2 separate regions of the Homo sapiens genome follow, and region 2 is linked to region 1. Evidence: fine-mapped expression QTL. A gene starts in region 1. The other region holds a variant in brackets. All regions are shown on one strand. Distances are from middle to middle.

What was found. PIP is the estimated chance that this variant, and not a neighbour inherited with it, causes the effect.
Region 2: its variant is the best candidate, but not a certain one, in a credible set for the expression of FOXD1 in fibroblasts (GTEx, PIP 0.71).

The regions. Positions count from the first base shown.
Region 1 is chr5:73,445,157-73,453,491 of GRCh38, reverse strand. FOXD1 (forkhead box D1) reads left to right here and starts at 4,715. Exons shown (of 1, transcript NM_004472.3): 1 at 4,715-7,226. The coding sequence starts at 5,130. The coding sequence ends at 6,527. RefSeq lists a silencer at 1,906-2,115 and an enhancer at 8,063-8,335.
Region 2 is chr5:73,314,949-73,323,283 of GRCh38, reverse strand. No RefSeq gene overlaps it. Among named protein-coding and RNA genes, the nearest start is that of LINC02230, 19 kb to the left of the region's middle. RefSeq lists enhancers at 789-1,396, 677-1,876. The variant G/C (reference allele first, on the strand shown) is at 4,517.

The DNA.
Region 1 (8,335 bases):
TGGCCTGAAGAAGCAGGGTGGGGGAGGAAAGAGGCTGGCCCATGGAGTCCTGCCTTGGGAGAGGCTGCTGACCTGGAACAGGAGGACAGAAGGCTCTGCTCTGTCATGGCTGCCTCCATGAGGCTTAGTAGCAACACCCAGAATCTGTCTCCTCAGCCATCACATGGAGATACCCACTTCACCCGTTGTTGAAATTAGCTTGGCGCATGGGAACCAGCATGAGTGGCAGGTAATGTTACACCACAGGAGAATGCTGAAGTGGAGTGCCCTAGACAGCCAGAGAAAAATTTTAGATCATCTTGGGGCTCCCAAGGATCAGGACAGATAAGGAGGGGGACTAAGGGTGTAAAAGCATGGGGTGGGAGTAGGGATGATCACAAATTTGTCCAGAAATAATTCTGGAGGAGTCCCGACTTATGCCTTTTTACTGAAGGTGATGTGCAGAGTCTGAACCTGAAAGTCTCAAAATTGTGAACAAGTTGAGGTTTCAAATCCAGAAGGGCGAATCCCCCTTATGTTGTTCTGTCAGCAGAAACCGTCCCCCCTCACTTCCCCAATGTGTATGCTCTGTTAAGACAATGGGCTTCCTTTGAGGGCTTCTGGGGTGAAAAAGATAGAGGAAAATGAATATATCAAACATTTTATCAGTGTCTACTGCATGCAGAATAGACAAAGAACTAAGTGAGTGGAGGTTCAAAAACTAACAGAAAAAGAGAAGCAACCCAAATGTCCACCAATGGATGGATGGATAAACAAAATGTGGCATATACATTCAATGGAACATTATTCAGCCGTAAAAAAGAAGATATTCTGATACATGCTTCCACAAGGACGACCCTTAAAGACATTATGCTAAGAGAAATAAGTCAGACACAATGGACAAATGTGATTATGATTCCACTCAGATGATGTACCTAGAGTAGATACATTCATAGAGACAGAAAGTAGAATAGTAGTTGCCAGGGGCTGGCGAAAGGTTGGGGGGAGTAGAAAGATGGTTGGGGAAATGGGGAGTTACTTTTTAACGCGTACAAAATTTCAGTTTCGGATGATGGAAAAGTTCTGGAAATGGATAGTGGTAATAGTTGCACAACAATGTTAATGTACTTAATGCCTCTAAACTATACACTTAAGATGATTAAAATGGTAAATTACGTATATTTTACAACCCTACTCGCCCCTTCCCCTACTACCCTAGTAAACAATAAACAACTCAGAGCCCAGGTTTTGGCCCCCACACTCTTGATTTTAACAGGAATGGAAATGCCTGTAGCCCCAAGGAAGGACAGCGAAGGCTAAATGGGCCCTGGGGCAGCGACTCCCGGCATCCCTCCCTTTCGCGGGGGCGTCAGGAGGACCTCATCATCGGGCAGAATAACTACCTACCTGGCTACCCACGGGACGGAGCACCCTCAGGCCAGGCACTCGCGTTTTCTTCTGTCTCTTTTCAGGGCTCACAGTGACAGGTACAAACACTATCGCAATACAGCCTTCTAGAATGACTCTTCAAAGGAGGGTCGAGGCGCCAGGGGAACCGCTGGGGTTGAAAACACGTTCATGTTCACGTTCATGGGTAAAATCCTGGGATGCACAAGGAATAGCCTAGGTTCCTTCCCCGTAAGTCTGAGCCCCCAGGTCTCTTCCAGCCTTCATCCCCCTAAGGAGGTCCCTGGGCTTGGGGCGCTCATGGTCAGGGGCAAAGGACAAAGGGCGGAGGCAGGGAGCCTCCCGACGGTGGCGCAGCCTCTCCGGCTCTCACCTAGCGTAATCCACGTGACCCCCGCGCAGGGGCTCCTGGAGGGCCCAAACCGCTCGTGGGGGGAAAAAGCCTCAGCCTGCAGTCCAAGGACCTGCCTCCACTACCGCCCAGTCCCGGGCCCCCGCAGCCGGTGGGAGGGACGCCCGGGAGCCGGCTGCCCACACTCGAGAAACACAGGCTGCTGGGCGAGTTCCCCGCGCGGGCCGAGCTCCCAGGGAGTTGCCGGCCCGGGCGCGAGGGCCCGCAGGTCGTCGCACCGCCGCCAGGGGGCAACTCTGCCCTACGCAGGCACCACCGGGACCCGCCGCCCGCCACTTTCCGCGTCCACGCGAGCGGGTTGCGCCGGACGGGGGTCTTCGCGTCGCTTCCCCGGCTCGCCTCTGGGAAAGGTTTTGGTCCCTTGTACCAGCTTGGGGGCGGGGAGCCGGGGGAGAGTTACCAGCTGGGGCCGAAAGCTGGGAGCGCTGTAGAGAAGGAGGCCCGGGGTAGGGGACGATGGGGGAGACAAGGGGGTCGCGCAAGACGTGAATCGCTTGAGTTTCCGCGCTCGGGGAATTTCGCGACTGCGGAGCTAAAGGTTGCATACAAACATGTAGCTTAACTAAGCAAACAAAACAAGTGGTCACATCCACATGTGGGGCTTCAGTAAAGCTCGCCTAAATCTTAGTGACACTTCTCCGTCTCTGCAGCGGTCCCTCTGGGCTGATCTTCCACTCTGACCTTCAGTAAGTCCTAAAACTTTCCCCGGAGTGGCCAGGAGATAATTCGCCACATTCTGCAAACGTTTCCAGGGAAGAGCCTCTTAACCCTTTGGGGGAAGAACTTGCGGACAAAGTTACAAACGAACGCAGTCTATCTCCCGCGCCATGAACGGAATGATGGCTGTAACCGGTCATCTAAAGTCATTAATGGTCTGCGAACAAATTCTTCCTCTCTGTTTCATCTTTGAATAACTTCGCCACACACCAACCCTCAGTGCTGCGAAAGTCATGGTGTTTATTTAGATATCGACTGAGTACTTATAAAACTTAAACTTTCCAATGTAAAAGTGAACTCCTTGGTAAGGACTCCTGGCTGCATCAACAAAGCAATGTGATGCCTGATTAATAGTGCTGATTAATGTTGGCTCAGGTTAATGCTCAGCCTATTACAGTAATTAAATTGTTCACCCATATATCAAACAAGAGTTAATGAAAAATAATTTATTTAGAACGTCGAGGCTTTCTCATAGATTGTTCAAAGACCTATGATAGCCTTTATGGGTCACTTGTAAGAGTAACTGGTGGTAGCAGTCCTCAGCAACAAAAACTCGATTTTAATAGAGGTCTTTAGATGGGGAAACAGTTTATTTCTGAGGCTCTGTGATTGACAGCGGTAGTAATGACACGTTTCAGAATGTGAAAAGTACTTGGTCGATAAAATGATATACACAAGGGCAGCTGATGGCTGTTCCTACAGAACGCCATTGAATTTTGATTCTTAGTTCTTGTCAAGGGGTCATTTTAATCAGAAAGTTAAACTTTTGGGACAAGCTCCCCTCTTTGAAATAGAAGCATTTTAGGAAATGCACAAATAAGTGAATGTGAATTCAACAAACTATTAGGATTTTTCCACTAGCCAAAATAGCTCGTTTGAGTTGGTGATAAAGATAGGTATATTTAAAAGAGCATCATATCTTAATTATTTCCACTATCTTGTCACCCGAAAAGAAAACTGAATTGAGCGGAACTTTAATCTCATAAAAAAAATTTTCATCTCACCAGAAAGGATTAACAATATTTAAGGATTTTCCAAAAACACATTTTTAAAAAGTTTATCTTAAAGTCATCTATCATTATAGTTTCTATTAATAAGCCTCAGTAGAAATATGTATATGTTATGTAATTTAAGTATTTTGAGATTACTATGCAAAGTGCTGACTAGAATGTTCCTCCTACTGAGAACTATATAGCCCCATTATGAACGAACTTCTGTTTTTTTTTTTTTTTTTTGAGGCGGAGTTTCGCTCTTGTTGCCCAGGCTGGAGTGCAGTGGCACGATCTCGGCTCACTGCAACCTCCGCATCCCGGGTCCAAGCGATTCTCCTGCCTCGGCCTCCCGAGTAGCTGGGATTACAGGCGCCGCCTACTAATTTTTTTCTATTTTTAGTAGAGACGGGGTTTCACCATGTTGGCCAGGCTGGTCGAACTTTTTAGTAGTTTCTAGGTGCAATTTTTGTGCGTGTATTTGGGTTTTCACTAAAAATTTCAATTTCTTCTCCGAATTCAATTATTACGTTCTTTATTCCCATGACATTTGTCAGATCGTCTCATTAGAGTGGCTTAGTTTAACTGTCAAGTCTCTAGGGCATTCAATCGCAGAGAAGTGAGTAAAACGCCAGTCTCACAGCGTTTTTATTAACAGATGGCGGAAAACAAACGTCTTTGGAGTAAAACCGAAGAGAATGGGTTAAAGGGTCAATAAACAATTATTATCGTGCTTAAATTGGGGGGCTTCGCATCAGATCCAATGGGGGGCCGCTCGCCCGATCTGGAGGGGCTGGACACCCCCAACCGACCCCAGAGCGTCCCCCAGGGGCCACCTCAGAGGATGGGGTGGTTATCCCCCGGCTGGAAGGCTCCTACAGGCTGTCGAGGGGTCAAACCAGAGTGTCGCGGGTGTGCTTCTGAGGTTAGGGTGGAGGACTAATTGAGGAGGCTGGGAAGTCTAACTCGTGCAGCGGCCCTCGGTGCAGACAGCCGCGTAATTCGGGCATCAGCCTCTTTGGCAAGAAATAGTGAGGTCCCCTCTCCTCCCCACTCTTCTCAGCTGCTGCCTCCCTCCTACGGGTGAATTTTCTCTCCCGAGAAGGGCTGATTTCCTAGGCTTGCTTTCCTTCCCTCGGCAGCGCTCTGACGTGCACACCATGTGACAGGCCCCCTTCTGCTATAAGCCGAGGAAGGTCCGCCCTCTCCTGGACTCAGCCCTGGCCTCGCCGAGCTCTGTTCTTAGACTCTCACCCGTCCCGCACGTTCCTGGGCGCCTGGCGTTCTGATTCGCCCGCCCGGGCCCCGCCACCCCCTCCTCAGCTGACGGGGCAAAAGCTGCTCCGAGAGGAGAAGGTCAAGTCCTCCGCCCGGGCCGGGCGCGAGCGGAGCCCAGGGAGCGCAGCATCCGCGCGGCTACCGCGGCGGCGCAGGAGTTATAAAGTCGGCGCGCGAGACTCCGCCGCCACCCGGCAGCCCCGGCGCAGCTCCGGCAGCCGCAGTCGCAGCGCCCCCAGCGTGGCGCCCCCCGGCCGGGCCTGCCGCCCGGGACCCGGGCTGGGGCGCAGAGGGAGCCCGGAGCCCGGCGCCCCCATGCGCCGCCCCGCCGCCGCCGCGCCACAGCTATGACCCTGAGCACTGAGATGTCCGATGCCTCTGGCCTCGCCGAGGAAACAGACATCGACGTGGTGGGGGAGGGCGAGGACGAAGAAGACGAGGAAGAGGAGGACGACGACGAGGGCGGCGGTGGCGGGCCCCGGCTGGCTGTCCCCGCGCAGCGGCGGCGGCGGCGGCGCTCGTACGCCGGGGAGGACGAGCTGGAGGATCTGGAGGAGGAGGAGGACGACGATGACATCCTGCTGGCCCCGCCTGCTGGGGGCTCCCCGGCGCCCCCGGGCCCGGCCCCGGCGGCGGGGGCAGGAGCCGGTGGGGGCGGCGGCGGCGGCGGCGCGGGCGGCGGCGGGAGCGCGGGTAGCGGCGCCAAGAACCCGCTGGTGAAGCCGCCCTACTCGTATATCGCGCTCATCACTATGGCCATCCTGCAGAGCCCCAAGAAGCGGCTGACGCTGAGCGAGATCTGTGAGTTCATCAGCGGCCGCTTCCCCTACTACCGGGAGAAGTTCCCCGCCTGGCAGAACAGCATCCGCCACAACCTCTCGCTCAACGACTGCTTCGTCAAGATCCCCCGCGAGCCCGGCAACCCGGGCAAGGGCAACTACTGGACGCTGGACCCGGAGTCCGCCGACATGTTCGACAACGGCAGCTTCCTGCGCCGGAGGAAGCGCTTCAAGCGGCAGCCGCTGCTCCCACCCAACGCCGCGGCCGCCGAGTCTCTGCTGCTGCGCGGCGCGGGAGCCGCAGGGGGCGCGGGCGACCCGGCAGCCGCCGCCGCGCTCTTCCCGCCCGCGCCCCCGCCGCCCCCGCATGCCTACGGCTACGGCCCCTACGGCTGCGGCTACGGCCTGCAGCTGCCGCCTTACGCGCCGCCCTCGGCCCTCTTCGCCGCCGCAGCGGCCGCCGCCGCCGCCGCCGCCTTCCACCCGCACTCGCCCCCGCCGCCCCCGCCACCGCACGGCGCGGCCGCCGAGCTGGCCCGGACCGCCTTCGGCTACCGGCCGCACCCGCTCGGCGCCGCCCTACCCGGCCCCCTGCCGGCCTCCGCGGCCAAGGCGGGCGGCCCGGGCGCCTCAGCGCTGGCGCGCTCGCCCTTCTCCATCGAGAGCATCATCGGGGGCAGCTTGGGCCCGGCCGCCGCTGCCGCCGCCGCCGCGCAGGCCGCCGCCGCCGCTCAGGCCTCGCCCTCGCCCTCGCCGGTGGCGGCGCCGCCAGCTCCCGGATCCAGCGGAGGAGGCTGCGCGGCGCAGGCGGCCGTGGGCCCGGCGGCCGCGCTCACCCGATCCCTCGTGGCCGCCGCGGCCGCCGCCGCCTCCTCAGTCTCCTCGTCCGCCGCCTTGGGGACTCTGCACCAAGGGACTGCCCTGTCCAGTGTCGAGAACTTTACTGCTAGGATTTCCAATTGTTAATAACGCTATGTTAGCGCGCTCGAGGAAGAAGGTAGGAATCCCGGCTCCTTTTCTCGTCTTGGTGGTTCGGTGTTTTGTTCGCTCCTCCAGGCGCGGCCCCTCTCGACCTCGCGCGCCCATTTTCGCCGCTGCGAATTCTCGGACAAAACTGTCAACAGCCCGGGCGCGCCTTTTGGCTCTGCGGGTCCCTCTATTTATGCAAAGCCGACCTATGCTACAGCCCCCCAACCCCCGACCTGGGGTAGGGAGGAAGAGGGTGCCGGGGAAGGGAGTCCGCCCTGTCCAGGCACTAGAGGCTCCCTTGACGTTTGGCAGATGAAAAACAACTAAGCCTTTTTGAGGTGTAGAGATTCTCAGGTCCAGGCGTTAAAAAATAATGGTCAAAAGAATAATACAAAAATAGTAAAGGTCTTGAAGAATGCCAGCGAAGCAATTCTTTTTTATTTGAGGACACTTGTCTGGTGTACTTTTTCATGAAAAGGAAAAATGGTTAACATGTTTACACAAGAAAAAAAGTCAAAATTATCATTTATTTCAACCTGTGTTTTGTATCATAACAGACGTGTGGATTTTTTTGTACTTACTGCGTATTCTTTACAAGGAGTATTGTAAATTTTACTGGCAATTATTATTGTACTATTCTAAATGTAAGATTTTTACACTTTTTCAGAAATAAAAATGCTTAATTTTCAAAGAAAATTCACCAAAATGATTGGCTTCAGTTGTCCCCTTCTTAGTTTTTCTTTTCTACTTAAAAAAACTTTCTATGTGGGGTAAGCAGGAACTCAATATAGAACAGACTTAAATACTTTCAGAGAGAATTTAACAACAGCATCATGCCATGATTTTTCACTTGAACTTCCTAAGTGAAAACCATGGTAGGAGATCAGAAATTATTTTTAAATGACTACAAATAAAATAAGTTACTTTGGTATACATTTTCAGATCTGACTCTATGCCATTTTAAAGCGCATTGAAGTATGTTAAAATTAAAGCCACAGGTACCCAAAGATAATTTTATAGGAACTTTGCATTTCATTTTTGAGCTTCCTTCCTCATTTAATTTCCACTCAGTTCACGACAATATTATATCTGCAGAAACTGTCAACATAATATGTTGTAATGGAAGTGAAACAAAGAGGCAGTCTAGTTTTAAAATTCTAATAGGAAAAATTAGTAGAGATCATAATCAGTTAAGGAGCTTCAAAGCCGTAAATAAGGACATATTTGCATATATGAAATAAATCATATTTAAAAGTACCAGTATTTACAGCTACTATGTTGCAGATGGAAGGAATGCGAGTAATTGTATAAAGAGGTTTTTCTCTTAAAAGGCCAATTTATTGAAATTCTAGCTTAAGTGAATAATTTAGGGTATTTAAGATAAACCTTCAACTTTGGGATGCTTTAAAGAATAAAAAATGAAAATGTATCAGGTGTTCATTGAACTAATTTATTGAATTTAGGTGATTTAGGTTTATCTTTTTCAATTTTTAATGTCTTTTAATTATTACATGAAATTTCTAGTTCTTTGAAAAAAAGTGAGGCACTAGTTTTGATTACTACAATGTTGTGCGCTCCAAATAAAACCTAGGCATATGTAACACATAATTTAAATGTCTAACATTAGTGTTTGCAGCAGAGATTAAATATTCAATTTCTTTAAAATGTCTGGACAGGTATATATCTGAAGATTCGCAGATTTAACTTACCAAGTTAATGAAATCTGCATTATAGGGTCAATATGTTGCAATGATACTCATTCATGACGCCCTGTCTCTTTTTAGGGAGAAAACGGACTCTCACGG
Region 2 (8,335 bases), 130 kb after region 1:
TGTCAGCAGAGATCTAGACCAGAAGGTCCCCTGGCCAGGGAGCTGGAAGACTAGTGTTCTAGGCTCGGCTAGTCATCAACTGGATAGGTCCCTGGACCTGTTTATTGTCTGTACATTGAAGGTGCAGGACCACCCAAGAATGTCCAAATGCTGACCCTTGGGCCAAATCCAACCTGCAATTGTGTTTTCTTTGGGCTACAAATTATTATTAACATTTTTATTTGCATATCTTTAGGAAGGGTGCGCACTCTCCGACCTACAGTCCCTCTGCTCAATACCAGCCCAGTTCCCGCCTTTAGGGAACCTGCTCTGTCCCTGTAGCCATCTGGGTCTGCAGCCTGGGAACTAGATGACATTAGTGCCTTCCTGGCACTGGCCTTCTGTGGTCCCGCCATTCTCAATGGCACTGTCTCACTTTCCATGCCTTCCTCAGTCACTGCACACTGCCCTACACAAATATTTGACAGGCCAGCCTCTTGAGTCAATTATTCCTTTCAGAAAACTGGAGAGAGAAATGATATAATTAACCACCTGAGAGAAAATGAACAGAGCGAGAAGCTATAAATACCAAGACCCACAATGAAGGGCGGAACCCCGGGGCCCCACTTGACCTTACCCAGCTGAGATGGTCTGACACCTTCCTGGGTGTAGGAGACCCGTGGGGCCAAGCTTGGCTGGGACTTACAGCCATGGCTTTCACACAGCAGGGTGAGAAGCAGCCCCCGAGACCCCAGGCTGAGCAGGCCAGGAAGCAACACCCCACACCCCTCTCCCCCATGTAGCCAGGATCAGAATCAACACCCTTGAAGGGTAAATCCTTTCCTCATGCACTTGTGCCCAGGAAGCAGATGTTCTGTCCCTACTCTGGGGTCTGGGCACTGTTGTGTAGTTGGATCCTTCCACCCTATCCTCAAACCACAGACCAGATAAATCGAATTGAACCGACTTCAAAGCAAACACTGAGCGGAGCCATCTGGGATTCATTCCTGAACCGGCCCTTTTCTAGTTATGTAACCACAGAGATGCAGACAGAAAGACACAGATTGGGAGAACTGGTTTTTGTTGTTGTTGTTGTTGTTAAACCTCCAAATCTTTGCAGTATTGGGATAATTATGGCTTTCATAGCATTGATTACTTTAAGCTGTCAGTAATTTGAATCCTTTTCAGAGTCAGTGACCAACATTTTGCAATTGAATTCTATCTTCCTGCTTCCATTCTGAGTAAAGGAAATAGAATGCTGAGCTCATAGGGCCTTCTTCAGAATGCCACATGCTGGGCACTTTGTGGTCACACCTAGAATGCTACAATGGACACATCTCCTAGGCATCCTCCTGGGTTCATTACACACTTCCTTCCCACGCCATAGTCTCATTCTGGAATGTTCATTAATCTCCTACCTGAAAGAGCAAGAAGAAATATGAAATTTTAGATAGGCCAGGGCTTTTGATGTGAATCATTCATGAATCACCCAAAACATTGTGGTTCATGGATAAAAGGCAAAGGCAAATACTGGATACTTTAAGAAGCTATACTGCCTACATCTATGCAATTTTTAAACATTTTATTTTCTGATTTAAAAGTAATACCTCTCCAATGTGAAAATTCTAAAAATTCTGAGGACTATGGAGAAGAAAATAATTGTTCCAAATCGTTGCTGGGGAGGATTATTCAAACAATAATTGATGCTAATATTTTAGCACATTTTTCCCCAGTTTTCGATTCATGCATATTTACATTTCTAGAACTAAGGCTATATTGCGTTTATAATTGTGTCCTATATTTTTACTGAAACATTTTCCACATAGTAAAAAACTTTATAACCTTAGTTTTCAGTAGCTACATAATTTCAAATAAAATAAATGTACCTTTTTTTTTTTTTTTTTTTTTTTTAGACAGCGTCTTACTCTGTCACCAGGCTGGAGTGCAGTGGCGTGATCTCAGCTCACTGCAACCTCCACCTCACGGTTGAAGTGATTCTTCTGCCTCAGCCTCCTGAGTAGCTGGGACTACAGGCATGCACCACCACGCCTGGCTAATTTTTGTATTTTTGGAACAGACGGGATTTCACCATGTTGGCCATGATGGTTTCGATCCCTTGACCTCATGATCCAACTGCCTTGGCCTCCCAAAGTGCTGGGATTACAGGCATGAGCCACCGTGCTCGGCCCATAACTTTTTTTAAAAACAAATCCCTTATTGTTGGACCAAAGGTTGTGTCTAATGTTTGGCTACTGTAAATGCTGTAGTGAATATCTTTAGCTATAAATTTCTATCTGCATTTCTCATTACTTTCATCAGATCTATTCCTAGAAGTATAATCAACTCTGCATCAAAGATCAAAATTTTTGAATGTTCTTAATACATTTCAGAAGGATTGAACCACCTTTTCACCATTAAGTATCAATGTTTTCTAAAACCTTACTATTTTGATAAATAAAAAATAGAATTTTATATTTGTATTAATTTGCTTTTCTTTAGATACCAGTTAAAATAATTATTTTTCCACATCTTTATTAACAATTTTTAATTTAGCCTATGAACTGAGGTTAAGGCTGATTATGCAAGTTCATGTGCAAAGATGTTCTCATCTCAGGGCAGACCATCTGATGACAAGAGTGGTAAAGGGCCAAGAAGAAGCTTAGCTGAGCTAGGACATCCAGAGGAGGAATAAGTGTGGGGTGATCCCCATTCCTGGTTATATTGGTTATCTTGCTGCATAACAAACTACCATTAAAACTGAATGGTTTCAAATAACAAACATTTATTATCTCACAGTTTCTGTAGGTCAGAAATTCAGGAGCAGTTTAGCTAGTGCTTCTGTCTTGGGGTCTCTTGGAAGGTTTCAGTGAAGATATTGGCTGGGGCTGCAGTCATCTGAAGGCTTGGCTGAGGCTTGGAGGAGCCACTTCTTAGATGACGAACTCACATGGCTGTTGGCAGGAGGCCTCAGTTCCTTACCATCTGGGCCTCTCCACAGAGCAGCTCACAATATGGCTGATGGCTTCTCCCAGAATGAGTGATTAGAGAGATAGATTGCTCTACTTATAGGTTAATAGGTTAATATATCTGTACCTTTTATAATTAAATCTTGAAAGTGACATACCAACACTTCTGCCATATTCTATTGGCCGTACAGAATCAATCTATTATAACATGGAAGGGAAGCATACAACAGTTGTGAAGACCAGCAGGTGAACACCACCAGAGGCCATCTTGAAAGCTGGCTCCCACACTGGCTATGAGTTTTCACTACTTTTTTTTTGAGGAGAAGAGGGAATTATGAGCAGATAGCAGAAACTCTATCACTGCTTACAATATGCTCAAGTTAACCATACATAACACCATTCTCATCATGAGGCTAAAGTCAGCCATTTCTTTTTGTCTCCATAAAACCTGCAATTAAAAGACCATAGCAAAAGATTTTCAGATAGAAATCTGGACTGGGTGTCCAACGCAGTTCAGATCCTGGTGTCTGGTTGGGACTGGTGGTGGTGGCAATAAATTCAAGCAGGCACTACCATGCAGAAGCTGCCTGAGCCCATCAATCCCATGTTCAGGTGCTTCAAGCTCTGTGGTATGAAAGGTCTGGTGGCAAATGTGGAGGGTGTACAGGGAGAAGAAAACTGCTGGACCATGGCTCAGGGGCCCCACAGGTGGGACAGAAACCTTAGGAGAGGTTTGCTTTTTTTTTTAAATAAAAGTGGGTGAGTAAATACAAGAAACCTCAATCCTGGAAGAGGGGCTTGAGGCTAGGAGAGGACAGGAAATAGGGTGTCACAGGTAAGAAATATGTTCTTACTAGAACCTTTGAATCTAAAAATATATGTGTCAGTGGGCATGATCATTAATATGTATGACTATTACCAAAATATGTTGTTGGCACCCATGCTAATTTTAGATGCTGCAGAATTAACCAAATGAGCTCTTCTCTTTTCTCTCCACATCCTCTCCCTTGACATTTTAATCAATCTTGTGACTTCATCTATATTTTTCGTGTGGTTGAATCCTAAATTTGTATTTCCAACCTTGCCATTTTTTCGCTACCACATTTCCAACTTCCTGCATGACATCGCAGCCTGGTTGACTCGTCAGCACTTCAAACTTAGTATGTACAGAACAGAAAGTATCTTCCCTCTGAAAACCGCTCCTTCTCCCATACTCCTTATTTTGATAAAGGCACCATCAGGCATCTAATTTTGAGACTCAAGATGGAGAAAGTAAATCTATTACGTAGATAAAGGGTTTCCTATCACGAGTAATTTAAAAAATTCATGTCTGAGTAGAAGTGGGCAGCCAGCAACAAGCAAGCTGAATAAATGTGTTCATTCAACAAATATTTATTAAGCACCTATTATGTTCCAGAAGGCACAGTTTTAGGCATTGGAGCTTACTGATAAATAAATCAGGCAAGAGTCTCTGGCTTCATGGAGCTTCATTCTAGAGGTGCTAGACCTCTGAGTTTGGCCTAGGAGTAGCAAATTGTACCCTCTTACCAGACCATCAGGTCAAATCAAAA[G/C]AGACAGATTGCTCTGCTCTGTCCTACTATGAGCTAAAGGGTGTTCTGCTATTAGCACTGGGTTCTGGAGTATCAGGCAAAAAGTGACATCATAGAGGATGGCAAGAAGTGACAAGAGCCCAAAGAATGTGACTAAGCAAGTGTGGCAGGCTGCATAATGACCCCTGAAAGATGTTCTTGTCCTAATCCCAGAGTTTGTGATTATGTACTCAAACGGGGCTTTGTAGCTGTGATTAAGGATCTTGAGATGATGAGGTGAATTCAATGTAAGCACAAGGCAGAGGAAGGCAAGATTAAACAAAGAAAGATGAGATGGGATGATGAAAGAAGAGGTTGTGGTTATGCACTTTGAAGATGGAGGAAAGGGCCATGAGCCAAGGAATGCTGACAGCTTCTAGAAGCTGAAAAATTCCAGATTCTTCTCTGGAGAATATAGGCCTGCCAACCAAAACCTTGATTTTATTTATTTATTTATTTTTCTTCTTTTTCTTTTATTTTCAGTTGACATGTAATAATTGTGCATATTTACTGAATACAGAGGGATATTTCTATCCATGTATATATACCATGTGTAATGATCAAATCAGAGTAATCAACATGTCTCCTAGCAATAAACACATCTCCTGGTAATAAACGCTTACCATTTCTTTGAAACACCTGCATTTTAGATTCATTTCAGACTTCTGTCCTCCAGAACTATAAAATAAATTTGTGTTGTTTAAGCCACTAAGTTCGTGGTAATTTGTTACAGAAGCAATAGGGTACTACTAGTACAGCAAGCCAGCAGGTTGGCTTGCTACGATTCCATAGGTATCCAAAGTAGATAGTGAGACTCAAGTCAGTTTATTATCCACAACACAGCAAACTGGAGGAACATCAGTAATAGAGGTGATTCCCTATCCCCAAGTTCCACAGGAGACATGATAGGCACAGAGGGCAACCATGCACACAGTGGATTATGCCACAGCTAAGGAATCCAGGGCCAAGAACTCAGCACCTTTTACATCATGCAGTGAACAACTCAATTGCCCTCCACCGGGGAGTGAGTGTTCAGCACAGCAGTCTTGCTATGGTCACCTTGACCTGCTTAATGGTCCACATGACTAATTGCAATAAAGGCTCAGGGTGAGAAGGCTGCTAGGTCTTGCAGTTTGGCACTCTCAGCAGGGGCGTGCAGGGATGCTTGGGGCTCATATGGGGCTGCTTCTTCCCACAGGCAGCTCTCCCAACCTCAGCCTAGCCCTACCAGGCTCTAGAAACTGCCTTGATTCACCTAGGAGAGGTTCATTTTCAGACCCCAGCAAATGCTTCTTTGTCTTCCAAGCAGTTCATTTTGGCTGCCAGAACCTGAAAAGTTCTTGCCCAAGGTTGAGAATTAGACAGAGATGTTCCCACATGGGGCTGTACAAATGCCCACACAGTCTACTGTGGGCCAAGCAAGGTCAGCACGCAGTTGTAAATGCTACCCTGACAAAGCCAGCAAGTTACTGGAGCTGAGCCTCAATAGAATCTTTGTACAGTACAGCTGGTCGCTTAACTCTAGGTGCCCATGGGAGACCTGGAGGACAGATTAACCAGGCCAGCAGCCTCAGGGGAGGGACTGAGGCTCAGCCTCTTTGTCATAACCAATCAGGTGTGAGGGAGGAAGATAGCATTAAGAAATAGCCTCCCGGATATTTCTTTTAGTACAGAATTTGAATTTACTCCTAAGAGGAAGCTACTGGGGCCTGAGCAGTGATTGCCATTGATTCCAGGGCTCTGGGAGCTAAGATTCTAGGCAATAAAGGACTTAAGTGTGTGCATGTGTGTATAAACCCTTGGCATGGAAAAAATATGAAAAAAGAAGATCCAGAGGCATTTCTTATTTTACTCTAAGACAGTCCATTTGAAGATGACCCTTATTCCAGAATACTATCCAAGCCAGGACAACAGTTTCTCCGCAGTGTTTGAGAACAGGCTCCCTTCCTGCCAAGGCATGATTTTTCTGGTGGTTGGTGGTATGATTTAGGGATAACTTGGTGGTACAATGGAGATTACAAATCCCTTCACTAGACATTAAAGAACTACATCTATATTGTATTCACATATCAATGATATTCAAACAAAGCAACAGGAAACAAGATATATTCTAGTCTAAACTCAAAGATAAGAACATCTTTTGGTTTCAAAAACATATGTAGTAAAGCCCTATTAGGTAATATATTTATTTAACTAAATTTTAGAATTTAGTGTAAACTACTCCCATGGAAGATTTGCAATCAGATGTTTCAGCCAGTAACTAAAATGTGCATTCCCCAAAGGTTCAAGAGGTAGGCGACAGACACTCACAATGAGACACTGAGTACCGAGGCAGGGAAGTCAGCCGTGTAGGCAGGGACTCCTTTTCTGCTGCCTCCTAACACCCAGAACAGTGCCAGGTATACAGTAAAGACTCAGTAAATGTTTGTTGAATGGATTAATGAGCAAAAGACATCCTCTTCTTTGAAGGCTGGCCTAGACACTGTTCTAGCACATGAATGTAAAAATCTCACTAAGAAAAATAGCAAATTGAAAAATAATATTTATCATATGATACATGTTTTGCTTAATGAAAAAAATCTCACCTGGCACAGTGGATCATGCCTGTAATCCCAGGACTTCGGGACGCTAAGGTGGGTGGATCTCTTGAGGCCAGGAGTTTGAGATCAGCCTGGGCAACATGACGAAACCCCATCTCCACAAAAAGTTTAAACAATAGCCAGGCACGGTGGCACACACCTGTGGTCCTAGCTACTCGGGAGGCTGAGGTGGGAGGATCACTTGAGCCCACAGAATTTGAGGCTTCAGTGAGCTGTGATCTCACCACTGGACTCAAGCATGGGCTGCAGAGTAAGACCCTGTTTCCAAAACAACAACAACAACAAAAAAAAAAAACCCCAACTCTGTACATTTAGAAGTGCACAGAAAAAAGTGCTACTGAAAGGTTATACTTTGCACTGTTAACCACGGCTACCTCTGAAGACTGGCACTGACTTAGGTAAGAGTCCTACCACATTTTGCATAATTTATGCATTTCTGCATTGTTTAACCTGGTAAAATAAGTTTGTATTACTTTCATTGGTTAGAAAATCAAGATTTTTTTTCAGACCTCACTTAAATAATACTCTCTAATATGTGATTTGATGGAAAAGAATGTTAACTTTTTATTAAAAGAGAAATCAAAGTTTAGAACAGTTCATCATTTCTGAAGGTCAAGATAATCTCCTAACTTCTGATCAAATGGATCTCTATCCACCAGGCCAGTGGTAAGTTATTTTCTAAAATGCTATTTTAAAAAGCTAGTAGAATGTTAAGAACTTCATTAGGTTCAATATTTATTTATTCAATCAATATTTATTGAGTGCTATGCTTACCTTATGGGCTTTTCTGTAAAACAGGGATTGTAGTACAAAGTGTAATATGGTGGAAAGAAGTCGGGGTTCTATGTGGATTTTTTTAAAGTCAATTCCTGTCAGAATTGGAATCTCAGACTGTGGCATTTCCTTGTCAAGGCTGATTGTTACAGCTTATTGTTCATCTCAGTACTTTATTTCCATTCCATCTCATGGGTAGAATGTCCATGTAACAGGATGTGGTCATATGATGTTTCTCCTGTAAACTTATCATAACTGCAACTGTAGATACACAACAATCCATACACTCAATGAAAATAAACTTTCCAATGAGGGCTCAAACTAACCACCTTCGAGAATTGCTCTTTCTGATTGTATTTTAAGGCCATTAAAATATTTGTTTAGTGATTTATTCTTCCTGTAGACAGATGTAGGTATCGGTCTATTT